Regions from separate parts of the Homo sapiens genome. Here all the other regions are reported to be linked to region 2. The links are microRNA targets in miRTarBase. Many come from high-throughput screens and were not tested one by one. Region 2 holds a microRNA gene; each other region holds the end of a gene's coding sequence.

The links. The annotated mature microRNA hsa-miR-766-3p reads ACUCCAGCCCCACAGCCUCAGC and lies in region 2 at 1,960-1,981, shown strand. An mRNA with a match to its seed (bases 2 to 7 or 8) in the 3' UTR can be bound and repressed. Matches are read on the target gene's strand: a 7mer-m8 pairs with bases 2 to 8, a 7mer-A1 pairs with bases 2 to 7 and ends in A, and an 8mer does both.
Region 1: miRTarBase lists DOCK7 as a target of hsa-miR-766-3p. The part of its 3' UTR that is shown has no 7-base or 8-base seed match.
Region 3: miRTarBase lists RELT as a target of hsa-miR-766-3p. Seed matches in the 3' UTR shown: 7mer-m8 at 3,271-3,277.
Region 4: the mRNA of PPIL6 is a reported target of hsa-miR-766-3p. Seed matches in the 3' UTR shown: 7mer-m8 at 4,189-4,195 and 7mer-m8 at 2,938-2,944.
Region 5: the mRNA of BAX is a reported target of hsa-miR-766-3p. The part of its 3' UTR that is shown has no 7-base or 8-base seed match.
Region 6: miRTarBase lists PLEKHG2 as a target of hsa-miR-766-3p. Seed matches in the 3' UTR shown: 7mer-m8 at 2,295-2,301 and 7mer-m8 at 2,604-2,610.

The regions. Positions count from the first base shown.
Region 1 is chr1:62,451,050-62,456,049 of GRCh38, forward strand. It overlaps DOCK7 (dedicator of cytokinesis 7), which reads right to left. Exons shown (of 50, transcript NM_001367561.1): 50 at 3,677-4,407. The coding sequence ends at 4,365. USP1 (ubiquitin specific peptidase 1) reads left to right here. Exons shown (of 9, transcript NM_003368.5): 9 at 1-755. Among named protein-coding and RNA genes, the nearest start is that of USP1, 17 kb to the left of the region's middle.
Region 2 is chrX:119,643,658-119,648,743 of GRCh38, reverse strand. It overlaps MIR766 (microRNA 766), which reads left to right and starts at 1,896; the gene lies at 1,896-2,006. The region is part of intron 5 of SEPTIN6 (septin 6); the gene reads left to right. RefSeq lists an enhancer at 663-842.
Region 3 is chr11:73,394,579-73,399,664 of GRCh38, reverse strand. It overlaps RELT (RELT TNF receptor), which reads right to left. Exons shown (of 11, transcript NM_152222.2): 9 at 4,931-5,086; 10 at 4,380-4,578; 11 at 2,191-4,221. The coding sequence ends at 4,174. Among named protein-coding and RNA genes, the nearest start is that of RELT, 21 kb to the right of the region's middle.
Region 4 is chr6:109,388,317-109,393,402 of GRCh38, forward strand. It overlaps PPIL6 (peptidylprolyl isomerase like 6), which reads right to left. Exons shown (of 8, transcript NM_173672.5): 8 at 1,899-4,621. The coding sequence ends at 4,510. Among named protein-coding and RNA genes, the nearest start is that of CD164, 8.4 kb to the left of the region's middle.
Region 5 is chr19:48,961,247-48,966,322 of GRCh38, reverse strand. It overlaps BAX (BCL2 associated X, apoptosis regulator), which reads right to left. Exons shown (of 6, transcript NM_138761.4): 6 at 4,525-4,791. The coding sequence ends at 4,687. It overlaps FTL (ferritin light chain), which reads right to left and starts at 1,014. Exons shown (of 4, transcript NM_000146.4): 1 at 714-1,014; 2 at 407-553; 3 at 1-42. The coding sequence starts at 815. RefSeq lists enhancers at 725-774, 2,324-2,433, silencers at 1,025-1,184, 3,955-4,124 and cis regulatory regions at 2,115-2,615, 3,555-4,075.
Region 6 is chr19:39,424,777-39,429,862 of GRCh38, forward strand. PLEKHG2 (pleckstrin homology and RhoGEF domain containing G2) reads left to right here. Exons shown (of 19, transcript NM_022835.3): 19 at 1-3,639. The coding sequence ends at 518. Among named protein-coding and RNA genes, the nearest start is that of RPS16, 8.6 kb to the right of the region's middle. RefSeq lists an enhancer at 3,277-3,922 and a silencer at 3,693-3,987.

The DNA.
Region 1 (5,000 bases), not on the chromosome of region 2:
AAAGAATCTTTAGCTTATCTTTTGAAGCTACTGGATATTATTGGTCTCTCTAGGTTTTTATATAAATAGTGAAATTTGAATTACTGAAAACCATGTTAATTTTTAGAACTCATTTTCCTCAGTAGAGACTAGTGATGCATTAGCTTCTGGGAACAAACTTGTATCGGTTCTTAATTAAATTATCCAAAACGGAGGCATTTAAACACTTGGATTTACACCAGTCTTTTGTGTTTGCTTTTTAAAATAAAGTGCTCGTATTTGTATTCTCCATATTTTGGAGTAATTATCTACATGATGTTTATAGTTCCTGTGGTTTTTCACCCAAGAAGCAGAATCTCATTCAGTACATTTAGTTTTATAAGAGTCATGAAGCTAAATCCTTGGGCTATGTCAGAGGCACAAAGTCTAGAATGTGTGTATTCACAATGGTGTATGTACATTTTGTGCCTTGATTCACTTAGAAGTGTCTCAGAAAACCTGGACAGTTCGCTTCTACACAAGAATTTTATATGTATTTATGAAGATGATTCTGTACCCTAGTATATCTTTTTGGGCATGGACTAATTTGTATCTGTTTAACTCATATTCTGCACGATCTGTATATAGTACATCAAACTTAGAGGTGTGACCTTAAATTTAACTTTTTTTAAAAACTGGGAGGTCAATAAAATTTAAACTGCTTAACTATGTATATGAATATTTGAATTTTTTACTTGTATATTTTTATAAATACAGCTGAGTTTTCTTAAAGCGAATAAGTGTGTGTATATATATATGTATATATATGAGAGAATAAGCATGCATAATTACCTTTATTACTGAATACTTTCTGACAGTGCAGGAGTTTTTCAAAGAGGAGAAATTGTGCTTAGTCCAGCCAAGCTGTCATACTTAAAAGAGGTTTATAATGAAATCTGTTGCATCTAATTGTCCTTTAAAGTAGACATGATTTAATGGAATCCAAAACTGGAAAAGTTAAGATGATGCTTTGGGCACACATAAAAACTTGGTTAAAATTTCATTTTAAACTAGTATACTGAAGTGGTAAGTGATGAATGATTTCATGACTTGTTAATGGACATTCTTGGTACTAAGTTTTTCCTAGAAATGATTCTAAATATGTAAATGCTATTGGGGTAACACTTTAATACCCCATTTCAACAAGGAGTACCTTCTCAATTAAAAAAAAATCGCAGTAGGCTGGGCGCGGTGGCTCACGCCTGTAATCCCAGCACATTGGGAGGCTGAGGCTGGTGGATCACGAGGTCAGGAGATCGAGATCATCCTGGCTAACACATGAAATCCCGTCTCTACTAAAAATACAAAAAATTAGCCGGGCGTGGTGGCAGGCATCTGTAGTCCCAGCTACTCAGGAGGCGGAGGCAGGAGAATGGCATGAACCCAGGAGGCGGAGCTTGCAGTGAGCCGAGATTGCGCCACTGCACTCCAGCCTGGGCAACAGAGTGAGACTCCGTCTCAAAAAAAAAAAAACACAGTTACATAATGTCTTATATTCTTTCATAGGATGATGAGATGGTAATAAAGTCATGGTTCTCCCCACCTTTCAGAATCACTAATGGAAATCCTTAAACAGTCCTGAGCGCTACCTGTAAGTTTTGAATGGAATGGGTCTAAGATAGACACTGGGCCTCTTAATACTCGAGAGACAGCCAGTTCTAAGAACTAACACAAATTCCTGATGTGAGAAAGTTCCATTTTAAGAAAAATGAAGTTTGTAAGAGGTTTGTATCATACGAATGTTTAAGAGGAAGCCTCTGTTCTGAAGGATGTCAGAAAATAATTGGTTTTGCATAATTATATAAATCATAAAGTCCTTGATATTACTGAGATTTCTGAGATTTTTGTCCAAACTGTTATATAAATGTAACCTAATGAGAAGTGACCCTTCAGTGGTTCCTTATTCTCTCCCTTATGTTTATACCCACCACTGACCCCCAAAGAAGAAGGGAAAATGTCACTTTTTTTGGAGGGGAGGGATTTCCATTCTTGACTCCTTACCTTTCCTTATTGTTCATTTGGCTCCTCAAATAGAGTTTTGAGGTTATGCCCTTCTGACTCAGATTTGGTCTAACAATGTAGACTCATCTGAAAAATGTTTTTGTGATTCAGTCTTTGAATTGATATAGATAAGAGGAATTTGAGATGATACTGCCCATTAAAGTACATGGAGTGTGGGATATCAACCATCACTTAGGCTCTCAGAAGTAGATATTTTTTAGTATATTTTGAATATTTACTACATTGACTATAGAATGAAGGCAATACGTTAAATCTGACCAGTTTTTGTTTTTTTTTTTTGAAACGGAGTCTAGCTCTGTCACCCAGGCTGGAGTGCAGTGGCGTGATCTCAGCTCACTGCAAGCTCCGCCTCCCGGGTTCACGCCATTCTCCTGCCTCAGCCTCCCGAGTAGCTGGGACTACAGGCTCCTGCCCCCTCGCCTGGCTAATTTTTTGTATTTTTAGTAGAGACGGGGTTTGACTGTTAGCCAGGATGGTCTCAATCTCCTGACCTCGTGATCTGTCTGCCTCGGCCTCCCAAAGTGCTGGTTTTTGTTTTTGACTTAAGAGTCTTGCTCTGTCGCCCAGGCTGAAGTGCAGTGGCGCCATTTTGGCTCGCTGCAACCTCCACTTTCCAGGTTCCAGTGATTCTCATGCCTCAGCCACCCAAGTAGTTCGGATTACAGGCACGGGCTACTACACCTGGCTGATTTTTGTGTTTTTGGTAGAGATGGGGTTTCACCATATTGACCAGGCTGTTCTTGAACTCCTGGCCTCATGATCCGCCTGCCCCTGCCTCCCAGAGTGCTGGGATTATAGGCCTGAGCCACTGCACCCAGCCAATCTGATCAGTTCTTTTATATATATGTGTGTGTATGTATGTATGTGTGTGTGCGTGTGTGTACAGATGATAGTTTTTTTTTTTTTTTTTTTTTTGAGACGGAGTCTCTGTCGCCCAGGCTAGAGTTGCAGTGGCTCCATCTCTGCTCACTCCAACCTCTGCTGCCCGGGTTCAAGCGATTCTCCTGCTTCAGTCTCCCAAGTAGCTGGGATTACAGGCTCCTGCCACTGTGCCTGGCTAATTAATTTCTGTATTTTTAGTAGAGACGGGTTTTCACCATCTTGGCCAGGCTGGTCTTGAACTCCTGACTTCGTGATCCACCCGCCTCGGCCTCCCAAAGTGTTGGGATTACAGATGTGAGCCACCGCACCCAGATCTGGTTAGTTCTTAAGTGATTCATGTAACTGGTCAGTAGAAGAAAAGGATTATAAATGATGCCATTCTGTAAACTGCACTACTACCCAAAAACCATTGTTCTAAACTGTTCTGGAAATCATTACTATGCATCGTTTTGGAAAAACTTGCCAAGAATTAAAATGTTACTTCTCAAATTTTTTTTCTGTATGACTTGCATATAATTTTAGATGAATTAAAGCACCTAATTTTACTTTTTATATGCTTCTAAACTTTACAAGTGTCAGAAAATAGGTAATTTCTCAAACTCCAGCTGTGTTACCTTCATGGTGCTACAAGATAGCTTTAAGTAGATTCTAATTTACTGGTTTACATCGTCAAAAACTGATGGCTGGTTTTAATTTGAAACAGAGAAATCATTCATTTTAGTTGCTAAGAATCATGAAGTTCTTACTACTATCATTGGTGTAATAAGATTTAATCAAGTTAAGGTGTTGTCACTGGTATTAGTTATCCCCGTATTTAAATTATTTTACACAAAGGTTTTACTAAGTAAAGTTCTGCAATTCTAAATTCCTGTTTTGGGTATGTAAATGGAAAATAACTTTGAAACAGTTACCAAACTCATTAATTTGGGGCTATCTATGATTTTTATTCTGCTAGGTTTGGAACTAGTTCTTGAGTCAACCCTTTAATTGTTCTCTGCCATTGTCAATAATAAAAATTTTGAAGTCCCACTCGGTAAAATTAGTGTAAACATTCACATATTTAATAGTACCTTTAAAATAAGCATTACTACATTTAAAATGGTTCCAAAATGAATCTATAAATGGTAATATAAATTAAAAAATACGAACTTAAAGTGAATAAATTTTTAACCTTAGCTATGGTATAAATAATGGTAAATGTATAGTGTACCTTTGAGTCATTAAAATGTCTTAAAAGATAACAGCTTGTTACCAGAACATTAGAAACCATAGCCATGATTCTCAAGCGTTAACAATCTACATTTGATATTTTCTTGGCCACTGCATTCTTCAATGAATAATAATTTCCAGAATTCCATTCCATGTTGTTTTCCAATAGATCTTTTCACACTCGATGTTGAATACATGGCTCTTTGCAGATGAATAAAACAAGTGCATTCAGTTTAGAGATCCATTTTGCGAAGGCTCATTCGACTGAAGGAATCTCTGGGAAAAAAATGAGAGGACATAGTTAGTTAAAGAGAACAATTTTTGCATATACCTTTAAATGTCTTACATGGTTTTTTCTGCCAGTTACCTTAAAGTTTTGCCACCATTTCTTACTAACTTCCAAGTTGGATGCTCATCCTACCTACTCTGCCTTATATTTTGGCTTATAGATTTAGCTATAGAAGTGTATTACAGTCACCACTTACTGGTCTTTTGTATTCGTTTGTCTGACTGATGCTGCAGATATTGTAATAAACAAGACAAGGACTTAAGGGATAATGGGAGAGATTTTAGGAAAAGATTTGGGGTTTTTTACACGGCAAAAGGCAGGTGTTTATTAAATTTTAAGTCTTAAACCAGTTCTCAAACTTTGTCTCAGGTCCCTTTTACACTCTTAAAAATTATTGAGAACCCCAGGAATCTTTTATGTGGGCTATATATGGATGTTTATCATATCAGAAATTAAAACTAAGAACATCTTAAGTTACTATAAAATAACCCATTACATGTTACTATAAATAGCATTGCTTATTAAAAATGATCTGCAAGAAGCTTTAGGAGAGTGGTACTCATGTAGGAGTGTGGCTTAA
Region 2 (5,086 bases):
CATTACAACTTCAGCTGCCACCTCCTATGAATTGGCCAACAAATTAGCATAGCAGGGCAGCAAGTCATTGTCTCTCCTGACTTCCTGTCCATCAGTACACCCGAGATGTGTTTGTTATCACCATCACCATCTTAGACAAATCTGGCTCAAGGGTAAGGCTATCTGGAGCATGGTAGGTAGAGATAGGTCTTCTCTGACCGGCCGTGGGCATGGAAAAAATAAAAAAGATTAGCACTTGTCCTCTCGAGAAGTCAGGGCATTTTGATGGAAACTAGGCTCTGTTATGAAGAGACAGCCTAGTCTGCAGAAAAACGGGAGCCTCGCGAGAAGTGTCATCTGGGTGCCACGGGCACTGATGTCTGGAAGCGTCTAGTCACCTCAGGACATCAGTCCCCATAGAGACCTTCTGAACACTGATGCCCTAAGTCATCAAGCAGCTTGCAGGCTTGTGGTTTGCTTTGCTAAGAATAAATAGGGACTGAGAGTACTCAGCCATCTCAAGGTGTCACACAGAACCACATCTTGGTACCTCATGGATTAGGAGTGATAATCATCCTGGGCTCTGTTCTCAGCTCAGCTCTGGCCTCCTGCTAAGCCTAGGGTAGGCTCAACCTCAAGGCTGGAAACCCCCAAGCTAGGCAGCAGCAGTTGTCAAGCATGCTGTTATGGCTGTGAAGGGATTCTGGGTCCTTTATTACTCATAATTGTGTTTCACTTTGAGAAACAAAATTCGAGGCTGAACAACATAGTGAGACCTCATCTCTACTGAAATTTAAAAAAAATTAACTAGTGGCCGGGCGCGGTGGCTAACGCCTGTAATTCCAACACTTTCGGGGGCCAAGGCAGGTGGATCACCTCAGATCAAGAGTTCGAGACCAGCCTGACCAACATGGAGAAACCCCGTCTCTAGTAAAAAGACAAAATTAGCCAGGCATGGTGGCGCATGCCTGTAATCCCAGCTACTCAGGAGGCTGAGGCAGGAGAATCGCTTGAACCCAGGAGGCAGAGGTTGCAGTGAGCTGAGATCTCGCCTTTGCACTCCAGCCTGGGCAACCAGAGCAAAACTCCATCTCAAAAAAGAAAAAATTAACTGGTGCTGTGGCGCACACCTGTAGTCTCAGCTACTTGGTCGGTGGGTGGCCTAAAGTGGGAAGATTACTTGAGCCTGGGAAGTTGAGGCTGCGGTGAACCCTGATCGAGCCACTGCACTACTGCAGGCTGGGTGACAGAGCAACACCCTGTCTCACAAAAAAAAAAAAAGAGAGAGAGAAAGGAAAGGAAAGAAAAAGAAAGTAAATAAAGAGAGAAAGAGAGAAAGAAATAAAAAGGAAGGAAGGAAGGGAGGAGGGAGGGAGGGAATTCCAGTGGAAGGAAGGAAGGAAGGAATGGAGGAAGGGAGGGGAGGGGAGGAGAGGAGAGGAGCAGGGAATTCCAGTGGATTCAGGATTATCCCTATCATAAATCACTCACCACTTACTCCCTTGCATCCTACTGTGCTTTGTTTTTTTTTTGAGACAGGCTCTCACTCTGTCGCCCAGGCTGGAGTACAGTGATGCAATCAATTTCAGCTCACTGTAGCCTCCACCTCCTGGGTTCAACTAATCCTCCTGCCTCAGCCTCCCGAGTAGCTGGGACCACAGGCATGCACCACCATGCCCGGCTAATCCACTATGGGTTTTTTTTGAGTGGGAAAGAGAGGAGTGGCCTCACAGCTAGTGTGCCTGAATTGGCATGCCTGTGAGAGGAGCTTGCATGTGAGTGTTTTGTGTTACATGCGCTGTGATGGGAAAGAGGGTGCTATCAAATATACACAGAGGATTGCTTAGCCTGCCTGCCACCGAACAACTATGTCAAAAGTCCCCAGAGTCTTCACACAAGCCGTGGTGTATGAAGCTGCATCCTCAGGACCTGGGCTTGGGTGGTAGGAGGAATTGGTGCTGGTCTTTCATTTTGGATTTGACTCCAGCCCCACAGCCTCAGCCACCCCAGCCAATTGTCATAGGAGCTGGATTGGAAGAAGCGGAAGAAATCTGTTGCCTGAGTGGAGAAGACTGTACAATGTCCTGTCTCTCACCATGGGGGATTTTTGTGGCAGGAAATGAGAGTAATGAGGTCCCTGCCACCACCTTGAATTATGGGTGGCTCCAGAAAACCTTATTGTAGATTGAGGGGGAAGAGAAGGGAGAGCGAGGTCTTGTTGCATGCTATTTTCAACCCATGCTCTGATATCTCTCAAGGTTGTAGACTTTAATACTAAGAATTGCTATGTTATTTTAAATTTAATGATGTTCTTTGAATGGCTGAAAGCATGGCCAGGACCAGCAAAAAGGCCCAGTTACTTAATTGACTGAGCTCCATTAATTGTCCATTTGTGAGGTCTGGGGTTTGGTTCCCACAAAGGCAATTGACATTTGGGCCCAGTGAGAACACATGGCTGAACAGTAGGGTCATAGGAAGACCCACAGGCACAAGTCCATCCCTTCCTCTGAGACAGCAATGGTATTTCCATTGTTGCCATGTACTTTTACAGGAATCACCAGTGGTTGACTTGAGAGCAAATCAGCCAATGGTCTTGTTCAGTCACCAGCAGGGGCCTGAAATGGGGACTAACATAACTGGGAAACACTGTCCACCCTGGGAGGAAACCAAGCCCAATCAGAATATTATCATTAGATGAGGAATAAAGAGTTCTGACAGTGTGTATTTCACTGGGCTAAGCAGTCACCTAGCCTCCCAAGTATAATGGATGTGGTGAAATAAGAATAAAGTAACTCACGCCAATTGGATTATTAAGTACTTTACAATGTACAAGAAGAATTTAAGTTAGACACAAGTCAGTAAAGGTGGTGCTATGGTTTGATTGTGTCCCCTCCAAAATTCAGGTGTGGCCAGTATGATAGTATTAAGAGGTCGGGGCTGGGTGCAGTGGCTCACACGTGTAATCCCAGCACTTTGGGAGGCCAAGGTGGGCGAATCACAAGGTCAAGAGATCGAGACCATCCTGGCCAACATGGTGAAACCCCGTCTCTACTAAAAATACAAAAAATTACCAGGCGCAGTGGCTCATACCTGTAATCCCAGCTACTTGGGAGGCCGAGGCGGGTGGATCACCTGAGGTCGGGAGTTCGGGACCAGCCTAACCAACATGGAGAAACCCCGTCTCTACTAAAAATGCAAAATTAGCCGGGCATGGTGGCACATGCCTATAATCCCAGCTACTCAGGAGGCTGAGGCAGGAGGATCGCTTGAACCCAGGAGACGGAGGTTGTGGTGAGCTGAGATCACGCCATTGCACTCCAGCCTGGGCACCAAGAGCAAAACTCCATCTCAAAAAAAAAATAGCTGGGCATGGTGCCACACACCTGTAGTCTCAGCTACTCGGGAGGCTGAGGCAGGAGGATCACTTGAACCCGGGACGCGGAGGTTGCAGTGAGCTGAGATCACGTCACTGCACTCCAGCCTGGCGACAGAGTGAGACTCCGTCTCAAAAAAAAAAAAAAAAAAAAAGGTAGGGCCTTTAGGAATTGATTGGGCCTGGCCAGGCGCGGTGGCTCACACCTGTAATCCCAGCACTTTGAGAGACCAAGGCGGGTGGATCACCCAAGGTCAGGAGTTCAAGACCAGCCTGGCCAACATGGCGACATCCTGTCTCTACTAAAAATACAAACATTAGCTGGGCGTGGTGGCAGGCACCTGTAATCCCAGCTACTCAGGAGGCTGAGGCAAGATAATCGCTTGAACCCGGGAGGCGGAGGTTGCAGTGAGCCGAGATCGTGCCATTGCACTCCAGCCTGGGCAACAAGAGCGAAACTCTCATCTTAAAAAAAAAAAAAAAATGTGATTGGGCCATGAGGGCTTCTCCCTTGTTAATGGGATGAAGGCCCTTTTTTTTTGAGATGGAGTCTCGCTCTGTCGGCCAGGCTGCAGTGCAGTGGTGCGATCTTGGCTCGGCTAACCACAACCTCCGCCTCCCAGGTTCAAGCAATTCTCTGCCTCAGCCTCCCGAGTAGCTGGGATTACAGGCGCCCGCCACCACGCCCGGCTAATTTTTGTATTTTTAGTAGAGATGAGGTTTCACCATCTTGGCCAGGCTGGTCTTGAACTCCTGACCTCGTGATCCACCTGCCTTGGCCTCCCAAAGTGCTGGGATTACAGGCGTGAGCCACCACACCTGGCCGAAGACCCTTTTTAAAGAGACATCATGCAGTGTTGGGCTAGCTTGTCCTTCTGCTGTGTGAGGATGCGGCAAGAAGGTCCTCACCAGACCAGAATGCTGGTGCCTTGATCTTGGACCTCCCAGCCTCCAGAACTATGAGGAATAAATTTTTTTTTTTTGAATAAATTTCTATTGTTGATAAATTACTCAGTCTCAGGTAGTTTACTGTAGCAAGACAAAATGCACTAAGACAGATGGTGAATCTAGGAATGGACTCCCAAGGAAGGCTTGCGACTATCTCTTGTTGGAGTTTTCTGACACTGGGAAATCTGATATCCGAGGGCGCCTCATTGGAAGTCTGAGTGAGAGAGTCACACAGACTCTCCTGAGAGGCCTGTTTGTGTTTCAGCAGCAACACTGCCCTGCATCTATCAGAGTCTCTTCCCTGGGTCCACACATAGAAAATGTCACCACTGTCTGTCAGTTTCCTGCAGAGACCTGGGAAAAATAGCAGAAAGCCTGGCCTCAGATTTGGATCCCATTGGTAGGACCTAGAAGTATGGTCCGTGGTGGTGCGGGGGGAGGGTGGGTATCTGCTCTCTGCTCTGCTCGACTCTATTCTGGTTGTCAAAGCCATCTGTCTCTCAAAAGCAGTGGAACAGAGGGCCAGAGCCTGGTCCCCATGATTTCCTGCTTGTCATGGTTTGCTTCCTTCTAGCAGATGCCATGTAGCCAGGAGGCAGAGTGCGGACCACCCTAGGTGGCTGGGAGAGGTTGGCAGCCAAAGCTCGGTGGCCTCGCTGCTGCTTCAGAGGATCTGGGCATGGGGGTTAGGGACCTAGGCAACTCGTTTAACCTCCATGTATCCCAGTTCCCTCAGCTCACGAATGGATCTTTTAATCATTGCCATAGAAGGATGTTGTGAAAATC
Region 3 (5,086 bases), not on the chromosome of region 2:
CCCATAGCTATACCTCCAAGAACTCAGCCTCCTCACCTGGAAAGGAAACAGGCCAAAAGAGGCCAAGTAGCTTGGCTCACACTGCAGCTGAAATGAAAACTTTTAGGCCTCCTTACTCTCTAATGCCTCTCACCAAATCTCACCGTGTGCCTCCACCCAGCCTCCCTTCCTGTCCTTGATCCAATATGAAACCCACCCCCAGTGTCCGAGGGGGCACCTCTGGCCACAGGCATTGTTGGGGCTGAGTCACCATAGTCAGTTTCTCCGGTGCAGGAAGGGATTTTCTCCCAGAGGGAGGCTCAGCTCCAGGTCACAGTGGCAGAGCTGAGGGCCAGGAGCAGGAGGGGAGGTGGAGACTTGGGTCCCAGCCCCTACCATTCTGGCCCATAGGGAAGAGGGGTGGAGCACAGAGGTCAAGCTCAGAACTCTTCCCCTCAGTGGTCAGCCCAGAACCCCACCCTGTCCTCCAGCTCCCACCTCCGCGTGGGCCTCTTGAACTCAAGCGCTGACAAAGCTTCAGGGATTTAGATGGAACAAGCCAGAAAAGCTTCCAGGTGAGGGTAAGGACCCTGAAGACCAAGGGCATCAGACACACTCCTACTTGAGCCCTCAGCTCTTCATCCCACTCTTGCAAGCTAGCCTCAATACCCCAAGGGACAGGTGAAGAAACAGGCCAGGGCCACACCTTTCAGCAAGCAGAAATTGGGGAGGGGGAGTCTGGAGGAGAGCACAGTGCTTACTGTGAGGGGGCGCTCAGCCCTGGCCTGGAAGCCTGCACCCAGCCTTGGTGCACCCTGGCTTGCATGTGTATGTACCTCTGCCCAGGCGAGACAGGCAGGCTGTGGAGAGGGCATCTAGACCCCACAGCCCAGCCTTCCCCTGGGGAAGGAGGCTGAGGGCCAGTCAAGGTGGAGAGGCCAGACCCTGAGATGCAGCTGAGCAGCTGGCAAATAGGGACTCCAAACACACTCTGGCAGCCGCAGGAAATACTTATTTGGGTACACTGGTGATGCCTGCTAGTCCCCTACAATGGACACCCTGTCCTACACTTTGGCATCCTTTTCTGCTCCAGAACATCCCTCCTGATGTCCAGCCTCTGTTTCCTTCCCCTCTTCTGGTGCAGGTGAAACATCTCCTGGATCTTCAGAGGTGTCCCTCCCCTTCCTGCCCACCTGAAAAGCCCTGGAGAGAGACACCTGTGCCCTAGGTACCCAAGGAGAGTCAAATCCCAAAGCACATCTGCCCAGGGTAGGAGGAGGCCCCCAGCTTGGCTTCTGCTCAGGAGAAAGGCCCCTGCCCCCTGTGAAGCCAGGCCTCCCGACAGCCCCAGCATGGCCGCCCCATAGCTGCCCTGTGCCTGCTGCAGACAGGCCGGGGACTCCCACAGGCTGGTCCTCTCCACACCTCCCCAGGTTCCATCAGGTGTCACTCTTGTTCTTCAGCCTCTCTCTGAGGCCGTTAGTTTAAATGTGTCCCTCTCTCCCGTCTTTAGACAACATAACAAACAATAAAACCCTAAATTAACTGAAAATTGTCTCTCCCCAGAGCCTGAGGCCCCACCCAGCTATGGCCTGCCAGGCTTCGGCAGGGAGCTGTCTCCCTCAATCCACCTGGCCCTGGCCCTGGTCTCCCCTCTCCCTTTAGGCGAATCCCACCAAGTTCCTGTGCCACTCACCAGGGCACAGAGCAGTCCTCCTCACCCCCCAGCAGCACCTGGCCTTGCAGCCCACCCTGCGCCCACCCCTCCCCTGGCTGCCAGGACACTGCCACGGACGTTGCCCTCCCTGGTTTCTTTCCTGCCTCCCTAGCAGTGCCTTCTCTGTGGTGCCCTGGAGCAGCCCAGGCATCGTCCCCAGGACATTTCCTCCCAGCCCAGTCCTGGCCTAAACACCCACCTGAGTGCCTGTAGGTCTTCTTGTCTCCAGGTCTGTCTCCTGAGAGCTCTGGGCCTTCACATCTGGATGGCATGGGACATCCTCCATGGCTGTGTCACAGGTGCCCCCAGGACTGCTCCTGTTGCCCCACCCAGCTGGCCCTAAGCCCCCGACCCATTTCCCATTACCAAACCCTAGCACAGGGGTGTCCAATCTTTTGGTTTCTCTGGGCCACATTGGAAGAATTTTCTTGGGCCGCATATTAACACTAACAATAGCTGAAGAACTAAAAAGAAAAGAAAAAAGCAAAAACATCTCAATGTTTTAAGAAAGTTTATGAATTTGTGTTAGGCCCCATTCAAAGCCATATCCTGGGCCACATGCGGCCCTTGGGCCGGGTTGGAAGCTTGCCCTAGGAATTTTAGATGGAGACGCTCTGTCTTGCCGGGTGTAGCACCCGCTCCTGTGGCTCCTTTCCTCTCCACACTGGCCAAGCAGGAGCTGAATGCTTTGGAGGCTCCCTGGGCATAAGGCCCAGGTGACCACTATGTGTTGGTGCTCAGCCTTTGCACATGCTGTCCCTCTCTGTGGAACACATTCCCTGGCCCGCACATCTTCCTCACCCCCAATTACCTCCCGGGCTCCACACAGTGCATTTCCTCAGGTGCTGCGCTGACCAGTGTGGTAGCTGCTGGCCACGTGGCTATGGAGCCCTTGAAATATTTGAGTTCCAATCAAGATGTGTAAGATACACTCCAGATTTCAAAGCAAAAGCAAAAACAGCTCATTCACACTTTTTATACTGATTTTATATTGAAATGAAAATATTTTGGATAGACTGGGTTAAAAAAAAATTAAGTTCACCTGCTTCTTTTTACTTTTTGAAATGTGACTGTCAGAAAATTTAAAGTCACATATGTGGCTCACACTATTTCTGTGGGACAGCCCTGCCTCTAGCTAGGGGCTTTGGTGAGAACCAGATGAGTTGATGGGTCTCCTCTGGGCCCTGCTTCCCTGGCTGCTGAGGTGCAGGAACTGTGAGGGGAGGGCAGCCTGTCACGGTGCCCAACACAGGGCAGGGCTGGACAGGTACAAGTGGAACAGGCGGATAAGCTGGGAAGGGCACAGAGAAAAGGAGCTCCTCGTGACAGCACTTTCCCACCTTTTATTATTCAACACATGGAAGGGGGTGGAGACACAAGGATAGGGCAATGGTGAGTTTCAATAAATAAGAGAAACAGGATGGACAGGCAGTGGGCCCATGCCTGCACGGCCCCACATAAATAACCAGGTTGCTGAGCCAGAGTGGAAGTCAGGGCTGGGCCTGGCAGCCGCCTGCACTGCCCAGAAGCACTGGCACCACAGGGACACAGAAACCACTGAGGCCCAAGGTGTGCTCCAGCCCCACCAAGTCTTCTCCCTAAAGCTCCTGAGATCTTGGGGCTGGCTGGGCAGGCTAGGGCTCTGTATCACAGTCCTGCCGGGATCAAGTCTATTTTTTCAGTTTCATTAAAAACAGCTGGGGGAGGGGCAGGCACATGCATTAAGCCCCTTCCGTAGGCAGAGCCATGGATGGACAGCCCCATGGGGGCCTTGAAGGCAGAGGCCCTGGAAGCAGCAAAAACGGGGCTGGATAAAGCTACTAATGGGAGGGATGGTAGAGCCCAGCTCCCCAGTCCCCCACAACCCAGCCCAGAACCTACAAAGAGCTGAAGAGGCCCTGGGTACTGAGACGTCTCTCCTTACTTCACAGTCAGAAAAATGGACCCAGCGATGGCCACAGATGTGCCCAAGATTAGAACCCAGGGACTCACTCTCCTAGCCCAGGACTTTCTGCTACCCCTTCCCTTTATAGACCTGCTGGAAGAGGAGGGGGACGCACATCTGCTCTAGGGCCCTGTACAGAGGCAAGGGTGTGGCTAATTACCAAGGAATGGGGCCAGGGGTGACGGGCACAGGCCCCTCCCCTCTGCCAAGCCCAGCCTCTGATGATACAGAGAATCCCGTGGGCTCCTAGGATCCAGCCAGGGCAGGCACGGGGGTCGGGGCATCCTTCAGGGGAGCAACATGGCAGCAGGGCCAGGGGCGGGGCTCAGCCTGCTCCTGTACACAGTGCCCGCCGGCCACCTGCCTCCTCACTGGGGCAGACGCTCCCACCTCCAGGCCTTGGTCTTTGCTGTCTCGTCTGCTGGGCCATTGCTTCTCGGTCCTCACAGTCCCAGCTGCAGCTCCACCTCCTCCAGGAAGCCTTCGGAACCTCCCAGGGCAGGGCCGCAGTGTCCTTAGACTAGACCGCCCCTCAGATGACCAGGTTGCTCTCACTTAGCCGGACCACATAGCGGTTCTCCTGGTGGGCAGGGGTGAGGGGTCAGAGCTGAGTCAGGGGCTGGCTTCTGGCTCCAGGAAAGTGGCCCCTGCCTAGGGCCCGCTGCACTTCCACCCCTGCCCCGTCTTCGGTCAGGGTTGGCCCAGGTGCCAACAGATGCCTTTCTCCTTGACTCTCACCTCGGCCTTGTTCTCTGCTGGGGGCTTCAGCCACTTTGTACGGCTTCCGCCACTTCCTAGCAGGGCCTGCTGCTCAGGGGGGAGGCCAGGCTGTGGGGAGTCAGGGAGATCACCCCACGAGGGCCCAGCCTCCGTGATGGTCTTCACCTCAGACACCATTGAACTTGTCCGCTGCTCAGGAATTCGAGCCACGCGGAACCTGTGAGGAGAGTGGGGCAATCATCCCCGTTAGCGGGGATCCCGGGGCACAGAGAAGGCAGCACGTGCCCGGGGTCACACAGCAAGTTCATGGACCAGAGCCTTAGCCTGAGAGGCCCGGGTGCCATGGGGGCCAAGATGCTGCCCTAGGGATGCAAGGGCTCCATGTGAGACACAACATAACCGGAAAGTCCTGATCTCTCTGGCCGCCTCCACTGCCCAGAGAGGCCCAATAAGGGCAGGGCTCCCATTGAGCAGGGTGCTCAGGGCCCAAGCTGGGGCCCTGCCTCCCCCTCCCGGCCCCCAGGCTGTCACGTCTTTACCTGCCCCTGCTGCATCTGTGCCCATCTCACCTGCCCACAGACAAGATGGTGATCTCGCCCTGACGCCCTGCCTTGGCCCCGGCCTTGGGAACCCTGGTCGGGTTAGGCAGAAGGCTGGGAACAGGAGTAGTGGCGGCTACAGCCTCAGGGGACAGCAGCACCTCGGGCCACTTCTTCTGGCTACAG
Region 4 (5,086 bases), not on the chromosome of region 2:
TGAACTTGTTCAAATTCTCCAGCCCAACCCAGTGCCACTGAATCAGAAACTCTGAGGTCCAGCAATCTGTTTGACAGGCCCAGGCACTCTGATGCATGCTAAAGTAAAAGAACCTGTGATTTATCACCTTACAAAGCCCTCTATCAAATATGCAACTTGTAATTCATGTTGTATACATTACTACTGAGTTAGTCACCAATATTTCGTATGATATACAAAAGTCTTAAGACTTGCCAGATTTAAGTGGTGGTGATTCCACTTTGGGAAGTGTAGGGGATGGTAAGATCAATATAGTTTAAAAAATGAGTCTCCATAAGGGAGAATATTGCTAGGTGTGGTAGAGACCAATTTTAATTTTAAAGATATACCTTTGAACTAGTTCAGTTGATTGAAAGTTAATCTGATGTGAGAACTGCTAATACTCAGTATAAAAAGAGCTTGATATTTCTTGAAATTAGGATGATGATATTCTGTCAGTGGTAGCTTGACTGGTTTCCGTGGGGAGACATTTCTGAAGGGAAACTAATTCTTAAGGAATATCTGCTGTGTGCCAAGCATTATTAGAAGCACTGTGCTGTGCTTCTCATAATTCACCTGCTGTGAATAGATTCACCTGCTGTGTCAATCCTCAGAACACTGAGACAGATGTACCCCCATTTCACTTAAAATTGTTGATTTTATGCGTTTCCTCAGAATAATCACTGAAGTTTTAGAGCCAGAAGAAAGCTAGCAACTCAACTTCTGTTATTTTTACAAATGGGGACAGTGAAAGGTTAAGTGATTTGACCATCACATTGCTGGACAGGTGGTTCTCAAACAAATAATGCTTCATTTAAAATATGTATAAAAACTCAGGGTCTGGAATCCTGAGGTTGCCAGATTATCCATTCCTTAACAAATAACTGGCACTGTTTGCAGTAGGGGCAAACAAATTCCTTGGATAGAATTTTAAATATTTACCTCAAATCTCCCCATATAAGAAAAATGTTTAGATATGCCCTCCCTTATTCACACGGCCTAGTATAAGATAAAGCGTATGTACTTGACTTTGCCATATCAGCAATTAGGGCAAGTTTAGACATATAACTTAGCATTTTGTGTAAATCATCAGAAGGCCTTTATTGTCCTATTTGTAGATGTGGAAAAATCTAGAATCCCTTCTGTTTAATTAGTGTATTTCAGTTTGGTTAAATCAAAGTCTTACATGTGGAGTTCATTGGAGTAAACTTTTGAGTCCTTCTAACAATCAGTTTCTTCAACTATGAGGTTAAACATACAAATCATTCTAGCACAGAAGTATCAGTGTGTATACTTTTAAGTGCTGGTGATAAGAACCACTGCATGGATCTGTGGTTGAGGTTTCCACAGCCCAGAAGTGGAAAGTTAGAGTGAACAAAGGGACCATGAACTCGCCATCCTTGAGAAGACTGGCAGAGTTCTACCTTTCTATTGCTGCTGACAAAGGGAGCTGGAATCAGTTTCTTACACCCACACAAATATCCCAGTTCTTTCACAACATCAGATAAAATGCCTAATGCCATTAATATATAGGTTCATCACCAGTAAGAACTGCCCTGCTGTTTGTTATTACATGAGTAACGCTTGTCATGTGTTTTAACCGGGCTCCTTGCAAAGAATCAGTTTTCATTCACCAATTGTTTTGAATCCTGGTGGCAAGCCCAGCTCCCTTTTGTCTGAGATGTCCCCAGTGTGACCTGAGGAACCTGGGCAAAGGCCCAGCGAGAGGGTCTGGAAGCTCTAGACAAATCACCCGAGTTCTCAGACTGCCCAGAAGTCTGTGAGTACAGGAAGAGGGAGACTCTCCTCAGGGATTCCCAAATCTGGCTATCAAAGTCATTGGAGAGCTTTCAAAAAGTCCAAGCTCTGAGGCTACACCCTGAAGGTTACACATTAGTAATTTATTATTAAATTTATCGAGTGCTTACAGCAGACCAGGTCTCTTATAGGTTCTTTATAGAAATTATTGATTCATGGAACCCTCACAGCAATCTTATGTGGTAGGTACCACTGTTTCTCAGATGAAGGAATTGAGGCACAGAAAAGTTCTTGCCTGAGTTTGTGCAGCTAGGGAATGGCAGAGCCAGGATTCTGGCCCTAGAACACACATTCTTAACACTATGTTGCTCTGGGTCAGTTGAGAATGTAACATAGGCGGTCTGCTTCCTCCCATCCACCTCAGGTCTTAGCATAAAGCATATGTCATATAGCAATAAAGCTGTCATTAAAAGGAAAAGCAAATGCCAGTTGTCAGGAGTTAGGGATGGCAGAGGGCAGGGGAGTGGGTTGACTGTAAAGGGGTACTGGAAGGGGGTCTTTGAGGTGCTGGAAAGGTTCTATATTTTCTCTATAGTGTTGGTTACATGAATATACTCATGATAAAATGGCATCACACACATTGTACCAATGTCAGCTGCCTGGTTTGATATTGTACTACCGTTTTGTAAGCGTAGCCACTGGGGAAAATGGGTGAAAGGTACACAGGACTGCTCTGTACTATTTTTGCAACTTCCTGTGAATCTATATTTCAAAATAAAAAGTTAAAAAAGCCTACGCCTACTTTTGGCAAGCCTCATATCCATTAGAAGCCTGCCTCTTTAAGACTGATGTAAATAGAGATTGTTCTTGGAAGACAAACCTCATTCTGCTTAGGGTAAGAAAAGCACTCTCAGCCGGGTGCGGTGGCTCACGCCTTTGTAATCTCAGCACTTTGGGAGGCCGAGGCGGGCGGATCACGAGGTCACAAGATCGGGACCATCCTGGCTAACATGGTGAAATCCCATCTCTACTAAAAATACAAAAAATTAGCCAGGCGTGGTGGCAGGCGCCTGTAGTCCCAGCTACTCGGGAGGCTGAGGCAGGAGAATGGCATGAATCAGGGAGGCAGAGCTTGCAGTGAGCCGAGATTGTGCCACTGCACTCCAGCCTGGGCGACAGAGTGAGATTCCGTCTCAAAAAAAAAAAAAAAAAAAAAAAAAAAAAGAAAAGCACTCTTAGTCTGGGCAGAGCAGGGGCACAGGGTAGTGGTGGTAACAGGAGCTGAGCAAGGTCACCAATAGCAGAGTCAAGCACTCTGCTGACTACATTACACCATGGGGACTGGAACCAGTTCCTTATGTCTTGCAGTGATTCCCAGATGACTAGTGCCCAGCTGTCTAAATGGGAACCCTGGGGAAAGAGCTAAATGAACACAGAATCTGTGCCCCACGCCTGGGAACCCTGGGGAAAGAACCAAATGAACACAGAATCTCTGCCCCACGCCTGGGAACTCTGCCTCAGTAGGTCAAGGACAAGGTCTGTTAGGTTACATTTTAAAAGCTCCCCAGGTGATATGAGCTTGAGAACTTTAGATTACAGAGTAGTGATAAAGCTGAATCTCCAATAACATCACATGAGTCAGCCACCACGGACACTGTAAAACAAGCCCTTGGTTTTCATAGGGTTGGTATGGCTCAGAGAGATAAGGATGATGTTCATGTCATATATGAAAACATCCAAAGTGTAGATACTCTTTCTGAATGCTGGTATAAACAATGAAATATTACAATGAATTGCTTTTTCTTCTGCATCATTCCTATTTGGTTACTTACCAAGTTTCTCCTAGGAGTACATGTAGTTACAAACAAGAACATAATTCTATTACAAATGTCTTAGGCTATCAGGTGTGTTGCTAAATTAAGAATTTTTTGTCCACAAGTAACAAAATTCTCAACCAACAGTAACATAAACAACACAACACAGGGCTCTGTTAGTCTCCTATAATAAGAAGTCCAGAGTAGGTGGTTGCTGGTATTGGTCCCGCAGCTCAAGAGACTGGGGCTGACATCTCTGCAGTACTTGGCCTTTCTTTTTTTTTGAGACAGTCTCTCTCTGTCGCCAGGCTGGAGTGCAGTGGCGGCATCTCGGCTCACTGCAACCTCCGCCTCCCGGGTTCAAGAGATTCTTCTGCCTCAGCTTCCCAAGTAGCTGGGACTACAAGTGCATGCCACCATGCCCAGCTAATTTCTGTAGTTTTAGTAGAGACAGGGTTTCACCATGTTGGCCAGGATGGTCTCAATCTCTTGATCTTGTGATCCACCTGCCTCGGCCTCCCAAGTGCTGGGATTACAGGCGTGAGCTACCACACCTGGCCTCAGCCTTTTCTTTATGGCCACAAGATGACAGCTGTAGCTCCAGCCTCTCCACATTCCAGACTGGATGAAGGGGAAGGGGCAGGACCACTGGCGTTCTATTCCTGTCCCACTGGCCAGAACCATCTCTCATGGCCACCCGTGGCTGCAAAGGAGTCTAGGAAATTGAGTACCACCCTTTCACAGTCTCTATGACAGAGACAGGAAAGGAAGATGGGGAGGGATTGGGTGTAGATGAGGCAACCTACAGTGTCTGCCACGGCTTTCAAATTACAATTTATCAAGTACTTTTTAATTAAATCCACAAACAGCTGATCAGATACAAAGTAATAAATTATCACAGAAAATATTGATATGAAAATCAAGCATAAGGATCTCCACTGTCAGTAATTCTACACATATGTATTGGTCTTTCATTCTGTGTTGGAACTAATTCTAGTTGTTTAAGCACTTCTGTTCCTTCAATCAGTTGCCTACATAGGAGAAAAAAATGGAAAATTTAGTCAGTCATAAGTTTTCATATTTAGCTTAACATTCCGAAATGGGGTCCTACCCAGCTATAGCTAAGACTATTTCCTACAAATTGAATGAACATCAGCTCTAAGTATCCTAAACCTCTCTGGATGTGTGCACTTTACCACACCTGCAGTATCCAGGGCCATCATCCAGGCAGCTGGCCTCCTGCCGCAGCTCTAAGCTGGCTTCCTCCATCTGCTTGGCACCCTCCCCTCTGTTTTTCTCCCTGCAGTCAGGGTGATTTTTTTTTTTTTTGAGACAGGGTCTCACTCTGTTGCCCAGGCTGGAGTGCTGTGGCATGATCTTAGCTCACTACAGCCTTGACCTCCTGGCTTAAGTGATCCTCCTGCCTCAGCCTCCTGAGTAGCCAGTGCTTACCAGGTGTGTGCCACTAGGCCTGGCCAATATTTTTGTTTATTTAT
Region 5 (5,076 bases), not on the chromosome of region 2:
CATGGCGTCTGGGGTTTTACCCCACTCATCTTCAGCTGGCTTCTATATAGAAGGGAGAAATGGCTCAGAATACACACACTCGGCACATAGAACTAAACCTACATTTCCCAAGAGTCGTTGGGGGTCAGAGGCCCAGGCCACAAAGACATGTGACAGCTTGTATTTATCACTCTCCGCACCCTGTCCTAGCTCTTACAGCTATACGTCCCTAAGACCACGCAGCGGTGTGGACTGCCGCGTGTTGTGGGCACTGCACGAGGTGCGCCTCTATTTCCAGCGGTTAAGAGGGCTCACAAGACCGAACTCAATCTCCCAGAAGCCCACGCGACACCTACGCCCTCAAATCAAGGCTCCTCGCGCGCACGGCCTGCTGGGAGATGTAGTCCATTACCCACACACTAGTTACCTTGATGTCCTGGAAGAGAGCGCGGCCGCCACGCTGGTTTTGCATCTTCAGGAGACGCTCGTAGCCCTCGCGCTTCTCCTCGGCCAATTCGCGGAAGAAGTGGCTCACGCCTTCCAGAGCCACATCATCGCGGTCGAAATAGAAGCCCTACGGGAAGAGATGGAGGCAACAATGGTTAGCGGGAGGCGAGGCCAAGGGGACTCCGCCCTCTGTTTACCCGACCGCACAAAGAAGGCTGGCGCGTGCAGTGAGGGCCGGAGGTGCGCAGCTGGAGGAAATTAGGGCCAGGGGCGTCCTGGGGACTCACCAGAGAGAGGTAGGTGTAGGAGGCCTGCAGGTACAAATTGACCAGGCTGTTGACGGCTGCCTCCACGTCGGTGGAATAATTCTGACGAATCTGGGAGCTCATGGTTGGTTGGCAAGAAGGAGCTAACCACAAAAACGGTGCTGGCAGGTCCCAGAAGCAGGAGATGGCCGAGAAGATGGTCCCGGAGGTTGCAAGCGGAGAGGAAATCGGAGGGCGGTCGGAGGCTGGAAGAGAGTCCCCGGATCTGTTCCGTCCAAACACTGTTGAAGCAAGAGACAGACCCGCGGGACCGCCGAACTGCGAGGGGACGTGGCTAGGGCGGCTTCTTTTATGGTGCGCCGGCCCTCGGAGGCAGGGCGCTCGGGGAGGGCTAGCGGCCAATCTGCGGTGGCAGGAGGCGGGGCCGAAGGCCGTGCCTGACCAATCCGGAGCACATAGGAGTCTCAGCCCCCCGCCCCAAAGCAAGGGGAAGTCACGCGCCTGTAGCGCCAGCGTGTTGTGAAATGGGGGCTTGGGGGGGTTGGGGCCCTGGGGCTGATTCTGGAAATGCAGGGGTTCGTGGGCGGGAGGGTGGGGGCTGGGGTCCCTCTGGGAGGCTAGAGTTTTATGGGAGCACTAACAGCCCTGTGAACTGATGACCCTGGGGTCCTGGGGTGCCTCGGGAAAGTAAGATTCTGGGGTTTCCGAGGGCATGGATTTTTCTGGAACCTTGAGTGGGGGGAGGGGCACCTCAAAGGTGCAGGGAGGACCTGTAGTTGCCTGAGGTTTGCGCTGCGAGATAAGGAGTCTCCGGATCCTTGGGAAGCTTGGAAGGCTGTGAGGTGTTATTTCTGGACCCCTGGAGATCTCTGGAAGATGGAGTGTTGCGGGGACTGGAGTCCTGGGATTTACAGGGGTGGGGGTTCACGATGCAAACTCTCTATATTTTGGAGCCCTCCCCGGGGAAATCTTTAGGTTCTTGAGGTGCTCTGCAAGTTGGAAAGGGCAGTTATTCTGGAGCCGTGGGTTTCACCCAGTGCGGGAAGCCCAGGAGGAGCATTGTATGAGGTAGGGTGACTTCTGGAACCCTGGACAGCCCTCTGGAACCCTCCAAAGATGGGCTGGGACTTTGGGGATACCTTGGAGCTCTTTCAGGGGCCCAGGCTTTTTCTGGGAGTGGAAATGGGGAGGAATGAAAAGTCTGTTTTGAGCTTTGCGGTGTCTCTGGGATTGCATTTCCTGGAGGCTGTTTTGGAGACAACTCACAGACTTCGAGAATTCTCCGTGGCCCTGAACAGTGTCTCTGAAGTTGCCCTCGTGTCTTGCCTGACGTGTGCTCCTTCAGGCCCACAAAGAGAAGCCCTGCGTTGTGGACAAACAGTCTGGGGACCTATGGACGAGACGTCTGTCTTCGACTAATGCATATTTTTTAAGTGGGCCTGGTCCACGTTGATTTCTGGGAGACGGAGTCGGCGCAAACCTTGACTCTACTTAAGTGCCCTGATGGAGGCAGCCCGTGCGCTGGGCAGGGAGCTGAAGCCACTGGGGTGTGGGGTGAGGTCAGGCCCTGCCCTACAGAGGAGCTGCTCCGAACAGCCCAGGCGGGGCAGCCCCTGACCGAGGGGATCTGCAGATGCCCCGCCAGGCCGGTATCTGGGGTCCTTGTTGCAGGCAGCGACTGCTGAGTCATGCTGAGCTCAGCGCGGGAAGGGGCCCCCGCGGGGACGGATGGGGGTGGGGCCACTCGCTGACCTCATCCCCTTGGCACTCCCCGACTTTTTTGGTGGGACCCTCAGAACTAGACCTGGCTCAGACCCAAATCGGGCCCCCTACCCCAAGGTCCCCCCTTGTTGGAAGCCGGCTGTGTGCTTTGTCTCCGTGTCTTTTTGGTTCCCATAATTTTTTTTTTTCTGGGATCCTGCCTGTGGCCATATTGTCCCCTCACTCTGGGTGGTGGCTCAGTGTACACTCATTGATCCTCTGCCCCTCTCTCTCCCCTGACTTGGGGTCTCTGGGAAGAGTCCATGGAGGAGGGGCAGCCGTCCAAAGCACCCCGTTGACTGTGGGGCCCGAGTTACTCATTTACCAAATGTCATACCTCAGCCCAGAGACCTTTAGTCGGCCGAGAGGGGCCTTGGGGCCCATAGGTGGAGGGAGAGGAGGGGCTGAGAGAGACAGGATCTGAAGACCATAGAGAACGTGGGGTGGGGAGACAGAGGCCCAGAGAAAAAGAGACTCAGACAGAGACCCTGAGAGAGAGGGGGACAGAGACCCAGAGAGAGGGGAAAACAGACCCGGAGACAGAGGGGTACAGAGACCCTGAGAGAGAGGGGAGGGGGACAGACCTAGAGAGAGGAGGGCAGAGACCCAGAGGGAGGGGAAAAGAGACCCAGAGAGAGGGGGGGACAGAGGTGGGGGGGGACAGAGGCAGGGAGGTACAGAGACCCAGGGGTGGGGGGGATAGAGACCCAGAGGGACCCGGCGGGAGGGGACAGAAATCCAGAGTGGGGGACAGAGATCCAGAGAGAGGTGGGGACAGAGATCCAGAGAAGGGGGTACAGAGACCCAGAGAGAGGGGGGACAGGGACTCAGAGAGAAGGGGACAGAGACTAGGGAGGACTGAGACCTGGGGGGGCGGGGACAGGGACCCGGGGGCGGGGGACAGAGACCGGGGAGAGGGAAAGAGACCCAGAGAGAGGGGAGGTACAGAGACCCAAGAGAGAGTGACAGCCAGAGAGAGGACAGAGACCCAGAGAGAGGGAGACAGAAACTCAGGGTCGGGGGACAGACCCAGAGAGAGATGGGGGGCCAGAGATCCAGAGGGGGGGACAGAGACCCAGAGAGAGGGGGCCAGAGGTCTGGGTGCCAGGGGTGGAAAGAGGCCCAGAGAAAGAGGGCCAAAGGTGGGGTGGGAACAGAGGCTCGGAAAGCAAAGACCCAGAGCATGGGGACAGAGACCCAGAGATGGGAGGGGGTAAAGACCCAGAGGGGGGTGCCAGAGACCCTGTGACTGAGAACCCACATCCTCTAGCCCCCTTGTCTTCGCTCCGCCTGTGTCTAAGGTCACTGGGCCTCTGAGCTCAGCACCTTCTTCCGGCAGTTCCTCTCCAGGGGGGCCCCACCCAGCTGTGGGGCCAGACCAGGTTCCTCCTCCTCTGCCCTGCCCTCCAGCCTCTCAGTCGCCAGCCAGGTCCCTTCCTCTCTGTCCTCAGCCCAGCTCAGGAGGCCTCTCCCGTGGGCCCTCGCCCTGGTGTCCTCAGCCTGCCACCCTCCAGCGACCTCACCACCAGGCTCCAGAGCCCTTCCTGCTCCTCTGGTCCTCCCATCCCTCCTCCCCCCACTCCCATTCTCCAGCTCGGTAAAGGTATGGCCTCCTGAGGTCCCACGTGTGACACGCCAGGCTGTGGTCCCCGGGCCGAGGAGGCTTGCTCTGCAGCCGGCCGTGCTGTTCTTCCCTTACCCACACGCCTGCTTGGGCCTCACAGGCCGCTGCCTCTGTCCCGCACAGATCATCCTGGGCTGCGACAGATGTACCACCTATCACCCTCGTTTCCCGTGAGCTCCCTTTTCCTTTCCCGTGAGCTCCCTTCTTTTCCTTTCCCGTGAGCTCCTGCAGGTCAGGCCCAGGACCAACTCATCCCTAACCCACAGACCCCACAGGGCACCCCAGAAAAAGATGTCAAGTGAGTGCAGAGAGCCCCACGTCCCTGAGTGGCCCAAGCAGGTATCTCTAGGCCAGCAGACGGCGGGCCCGGCGTGGGGCAGCGGACAGGGCCTGCTCTCCTGACGTGCCGGGGAGCGGGGCAGAGGCCCAGTGACTCAGATGCCGAAGTGTGTCCCGAAGGAGGTTTATTACCCCCTCAAGACCACTCTTCCCCACACCCCCCAATAATTACAAAAGTAAGAAAAATGCCCACGTCCCCCAATCCCCACCCCTCCCAGAAAAATGCCATAATTTATGGAGGAAAAACACAGTCCAAGGCAGCTGGGGGCCTCAGCCCATCTTCTTCCAGATGGTGAGTGAGGCGGTGAGCACTCCCGCCACAAAGATGGTCACGGTCTGCCACGTGGGCGTCCCAAAGTAGGAGAGGAGGCCGTCCTGGAGACAGGGACATCAGTCGCTTCAGTGACTCGGCCAGGGGCAGCCCCTGGGCAGGCAGAGGCGGGATCAGGGACGGAGGAGGCCAGAAGGCAGGATTGCGGGCAGGGGACTGAGATGAACGGGCATTAAAGAGCTGGACTCAGGCCAGGCATGGTGGCTCACACCTGTAATCCCAGCACTTTGAGAGGCTGAGGCGGGAGGATCGCTTGAGGCCAGGAGTTCGAGACCAACCTGGGCAACATAGCGAGACCCCTTCTCAGTGGGGAAAAAAAAAAAAAGGAA
Region 6 (5,086 bases), not on the chromosome of region 2:
CTGAGAGAGGAGGCTCTCTAGACATTCAGGGCCTCTCACCCACCCCAGTTCAGACCACCATGGTTTTGTCCAAACCAGGAGGCTCCTTAGCCTCTCACGTTGCCAGGTTGGAGTCTTCAGACTTGACGCCACCTCATAGTCCCCCACCTTCCAGCCGTCAGCTCCTGGGCCCCAATGCAGCTGCCCTCTCCAGATACCTGGCAGCCTCATATATCAGCCAGAGCCTGGCTCGGCGGCAGGGGCCTGGGGGAGGGGCCCCCGCAGCCTCCCGGGGCTCCTGGTCCTCTGCTCCCACGTCACGGGCATCTTCGCCGCCCCCCCAGCCCCAGCCACCACCTCCCCCAGCCAGGCGGCTCAGCTATGCCACGACGGTTAACATCCACGTGGGCGGGGGTGGGCGGCTGCGGCCAGCCAAGGCCCAGGTCCGGTTGAACCACCCTGCTCTCTTGGCCTCCACACAGGAATCTATGGGCCTTCACAGGGCCCAGGGGGCTCCTGATGCCCCCTTCCACATGTGAGCCAGGACATGAGGCTTCCCTGAAGCAAGGATTTCAGCCAGATGCCATAGACCCTCAGAACTTGACCTGGAAGTCCAGACACTGAACGCAGGCCTCAAAACTGCTGCGGCCTTCCAACTCCTGGTATCTGCATCGGCGAATGGCCCTTCTTGCCTTGATCCACAGGGATGGGGAAGGGAGGAATGTCATTAATGTTTTGTTAATACTGATTCTTTCATGCAATGATGTGTATTTTCCCATTCTGGAGGCTGTGGGAGATGACAAGACAATGAATGGGAAGGTCTGACACAGAACAAATCAGCGGTTCTGAAAGCTTGGGGAATCTCAGACTCCTTTGAGAATTATTGGAAAATGGACCCACTATAACTTGGCGTGTGTGTGAACTGCTTGATGCCCATCCAGGAAAGCCAAGTTAAGAAGCTTTGCTTCAAGTAGACACTAGAAATCCATTCCCTTGGCAATTTATACAGTTCACGTCTCCCACCATCCGTTCATCTCACCCACCCTGCCATCTCTCCACCTATCCATCTGGCTATTGCTCCATCTAGCTTTCCCGCTCCATCTACCCATCTTCCAATCCATCATCTCACGTATCTGCCTTGCTTATCCAACTGTCTGCCTTATTCACCCACCCATCCCTTTATCATTCTAACCCCATCTGGCATTCCATCCCTCCATTTATCCATCTTCCCACTTACCCATCTTCTCCATCCAGCACTCCGTTCATCAGTCCGTCTCTCCCTCCATATTTCCATCTGTCCATTCATCCACTCATTTTGCCATCCATACATATTCACCCAGCCATCTCCCAATCCATCGACATACCCCATCCCTCCCTCACTGGACTCTCCGGGGTCTTAGTACTATGATACTTCAGAGACAATTCCATGCTGATACGGGGGAGATCAATTTTGGGGCTCTGGGATAAGTCTGTCCCACATCTGTCTGATTTCCCTTGGCATCCTTCCCGTCAGTTCCTCTTGAATATCCCAGTTCTTGTACCCACTCACATACCTCAGATCCCTTCACTCCTCCCCGCAGTTTGCAGCCTCTACAATTCATCCACATGCTCCCTCCCCCAGCAAAATAATTCAGGTCGTGGAGACAAAAGGCTTTTATGTTAGGTTCTGTCTGCCCCCTTGTTCCAGCAGTGGTATGCCCAGTGAGAGGCACAATTTAAACGGTTTCTTTGGTGATGATATTAGCTACTTTCATCAAATACTTAGCCTCTTGTGCTTTAGCACATTATTTATGTAAGCTCCCCTAGGATTCTCTGAAGCACCCTGGTGTCCTGGCTGTGAATTCAAGTCCCATCTTTACTTATTTGGTGTGGGTCCTCCCTCTGAGCCGGTTTTCTCATCTACAAAATGAAGACAACAGTACTTCCCTCCTGGGATCATTGAAAGATTTAGGGAGCATATCCTTCCACTTCCCAAACATATTTGAACCTCTGACTTGCTTAGGAGCATCATTCAAATCACAGATCCCCCAGTATCTAGTCCCAACCTATTGAATCAGGATCCCCAGGGAAGGAGGAGCTTGGGAATCTGATTTTTTTTTTTTTTTTTAGATAAAGTCTCACTCTGTCACCCAGGCTTGAGTGCAGTGGCAAAATCTTGGCTCATTGCAACCTCCACCTCCTGGGTTCAAGCAATTCTCATGCCTCAGCTTCCCGACATAGCTGGGATTATAGGCGTGCACCACCATGCCCAGCTAATTTTTCGTTGTTGTTGTTGTTGTTTTGTTTTTGAGACAGAGTCTCGCTCTGTTGCCCAGGCTGGAGTACAGTGGCACGATCTTGGCTCACTGCAAGCTCCGCTTCCCGGGTTCACGCCATTCTCCTGCCTCAGCCTCCCGAGTAGCTGGGACCACAGGTGCCCGCCACCACGCCCGGCTAATTTTTTTGGTATTTTTAGTAGAGACGGGGTTTTACCATGTTAGCCAGGATGGTCTCGATCTCCTGACCTCGTGATCCTCCCGCCTCGGCCTCCCAAAGTGCTGGCATTACAGGCGTGAGCCATCATTCCTGGCTGGGAATCCGAATTTTTTTTTTTTTTTAGACGGAGTTTCGCTCTTGTTGCCCAGGCTGGAGTTCAATAGCATGATCTCGGCTCACTGCAACCTCTGCCTCCCAGGTTCAAGTGATTCTCCTGCCTCTAGCTGGGATTGCAGGCGCCCACGACCACGCCCAGCTAATTTTTGTATTTTGTAGTAGAGACGGGATTTCGCCATATTGGCCAGGCCATAGTGGTCTTGGACTCCTGACCTCAGGTGATCCGCCCACCTCGGCCTCCCAAAGTGTTGGGTTTACAGGCGTGAGCTACCATACCCTGCCCAGGAATCTGAATTTTTAGCAATCAGTTAGCAGCAAATAAGCTGAGATTTCCTGGGTACTAAGCACATACTATGAGCATTACAGCCGCTTTATATAAGCTCGTTCACTGTCCTCATTACATTCCTAATATGCAAGTGAGCATGTTTTTTAATCCTCAGTCTAGAGGTGAGGAAACTGAGGCAGGCACAGAGAGGCTAAGGGATTTGCCTAGTCGCACAGCTAGGAAGGTGCAGCACTGAGACTCGAATCCACACAGCTTGGCTTAAGTCTACCATTAAATTTGCCTGTCCTGGCCAGGTGCGGTGGCTCACGCCTGTAATCCCAACACTTCGTGAGGCCAAGGCAGGTGGATCACTTGAAGTGAGGAGTTCGAGACCACACCAGCCTGGCCAACATGGTGAAATCCCGTCTTTACTAAAAATACAAAAAATTAGCTGGGCGTGGTGGTGGGTGCCGGTAATCCTAGCTACTCAGGAGGCTGAGGCAGGAGAATCACTTGAACCTGGGAGGTGGAGGTTGCAGTGAACCGAGATTGCGCCACTAGACTCCAGCCTGGGAGACGAGCAAAACTGTCTCAAAAAAATAAAATGAAATACATAAATAAATGTGCCTATCCTGTGCCGGGTGCTGTTCTTGCCAGTGGGGATACATGAGAGAACACTGCCTTGCCCGCATGAGGCTTGTGGCCTGGTACTGTGCACACCTCAGGGGATTCTGATAATTAGCTGAGCACAGTTGCCAGCACAGGGCCTGGCTCAATAAATATTAGCTGCTGGCTTCTGCTCACTTACTGTTTATTGACTGGCTACTGTACACCAGGGCCGAGGCTGTGTCCCGGGGGCCCCGTGGTGACGGAGGTGAACTCCTCAGCCTGGAGTGATCCACTCCACTGGAGCCTCCCCAAGGTCAGGACCGCAGCCGACGCTCCCCTCCTCCGCCCCAGCTGCACATTCCCGGCTGAAGGAAAGTTCTCAGCCTGGCCCAGGCTCCCAGCGGCGTCGGAATTCCCGGTATTCGAGGAGGCAGGGAGGGAGAAGGGGCCTGTCTACTCCAAGGCCTGGAGCTGGGAAGGAGAGGCAAGCCCCTTTCCAGTCCAGATGTGTCCCAGCTGTGCCTCTGGGAAAGAGCCAGGAGCCTCAATAAGGGGGTCTCTGGACCCCCTGGGAAAACCATGGGCGCCAGGCTTGCCTCCACCCCTCCTCCTGGCATCTGTGAATTCCATTCCTCCCTCCCGCCCAACTCCTACTGCTGCTTCCCAGCCCCAGCTCTGTCGCCTTCTCAGGAATACCTTTCCTGCTGGCCTACCTTGGTTCTGAGCCCAGTCCTCCTCAGAGCTACAGCTAAATCAGGCTCCGAAAGGATAAGGATGGTGCCTGCTGTCCTCTCTGGGACATTTAGGTTAATGCCAGCTAAACCAGTTAACCGGAGTTAACTCTGGCTGCGATGCAAAACTTGGCGAGCCGCAAAACATTTTGCCACTAGGGTAGTTTTCTCATCCTGTGTCACCAACCTCACAGGGATGTGGCCACCTCCAACAACCACCTACCTGATGCTCCATGAACCCCACTCCTTTACTTTTTCTTTTTTTTTCTTTTTTTGAGGAGGAGTCTTGCTCTGTCGCCCAGAGCTGAAGTGCAGTGGCGCAATGTCAGCTCACTGCAACCTCTACCTCCTGGGTTCAAGCGATTCTCCTGCCTCAGCCTCCAGAGTAGCTGGGACTACAGGCACGTGCCACTATGCTCAGCTAATTTTGTACTTTTAGTAGAGACAGGGTTTCACTGTGTTGGCCAGGCTAGTCTCGAACTCCTGACCTCAAGTGATCTGCCTGCCTCTGCCTCCCAAAGCGCTGGGATTACAAGAACGAGTTGCTGCGCCCGGCCCCCCACTCCTTTACTTTTTATTTTATTTATTTATTTATTTGAGACGGAGTCTCCCTATGTTGCCCAGGCTGGAGTGCAGTGGTGCGATCTTGGCTCACTGCAACCTCTGCCGCTGGAGTTCAGTGGTGCGATCTTGGCTCACTGCAACCTCTGCCGCTGGAGTTCAATGGTGCGATCTTGGCTCACTGCAACCTCTGCCTCTGGGGTTCAAGTGATTCTCCTGCCTCAGCCTCCCAAGTAGCTGGGATTGCAGGCGAGTGCCACCACGCCCAGCTAATTTTTTTGTATTTTTGGTAGAAACAGGGTTTCACCATGTTGGCCAGGCTGGTCTCAAACTCCAGACCTCGTGATCC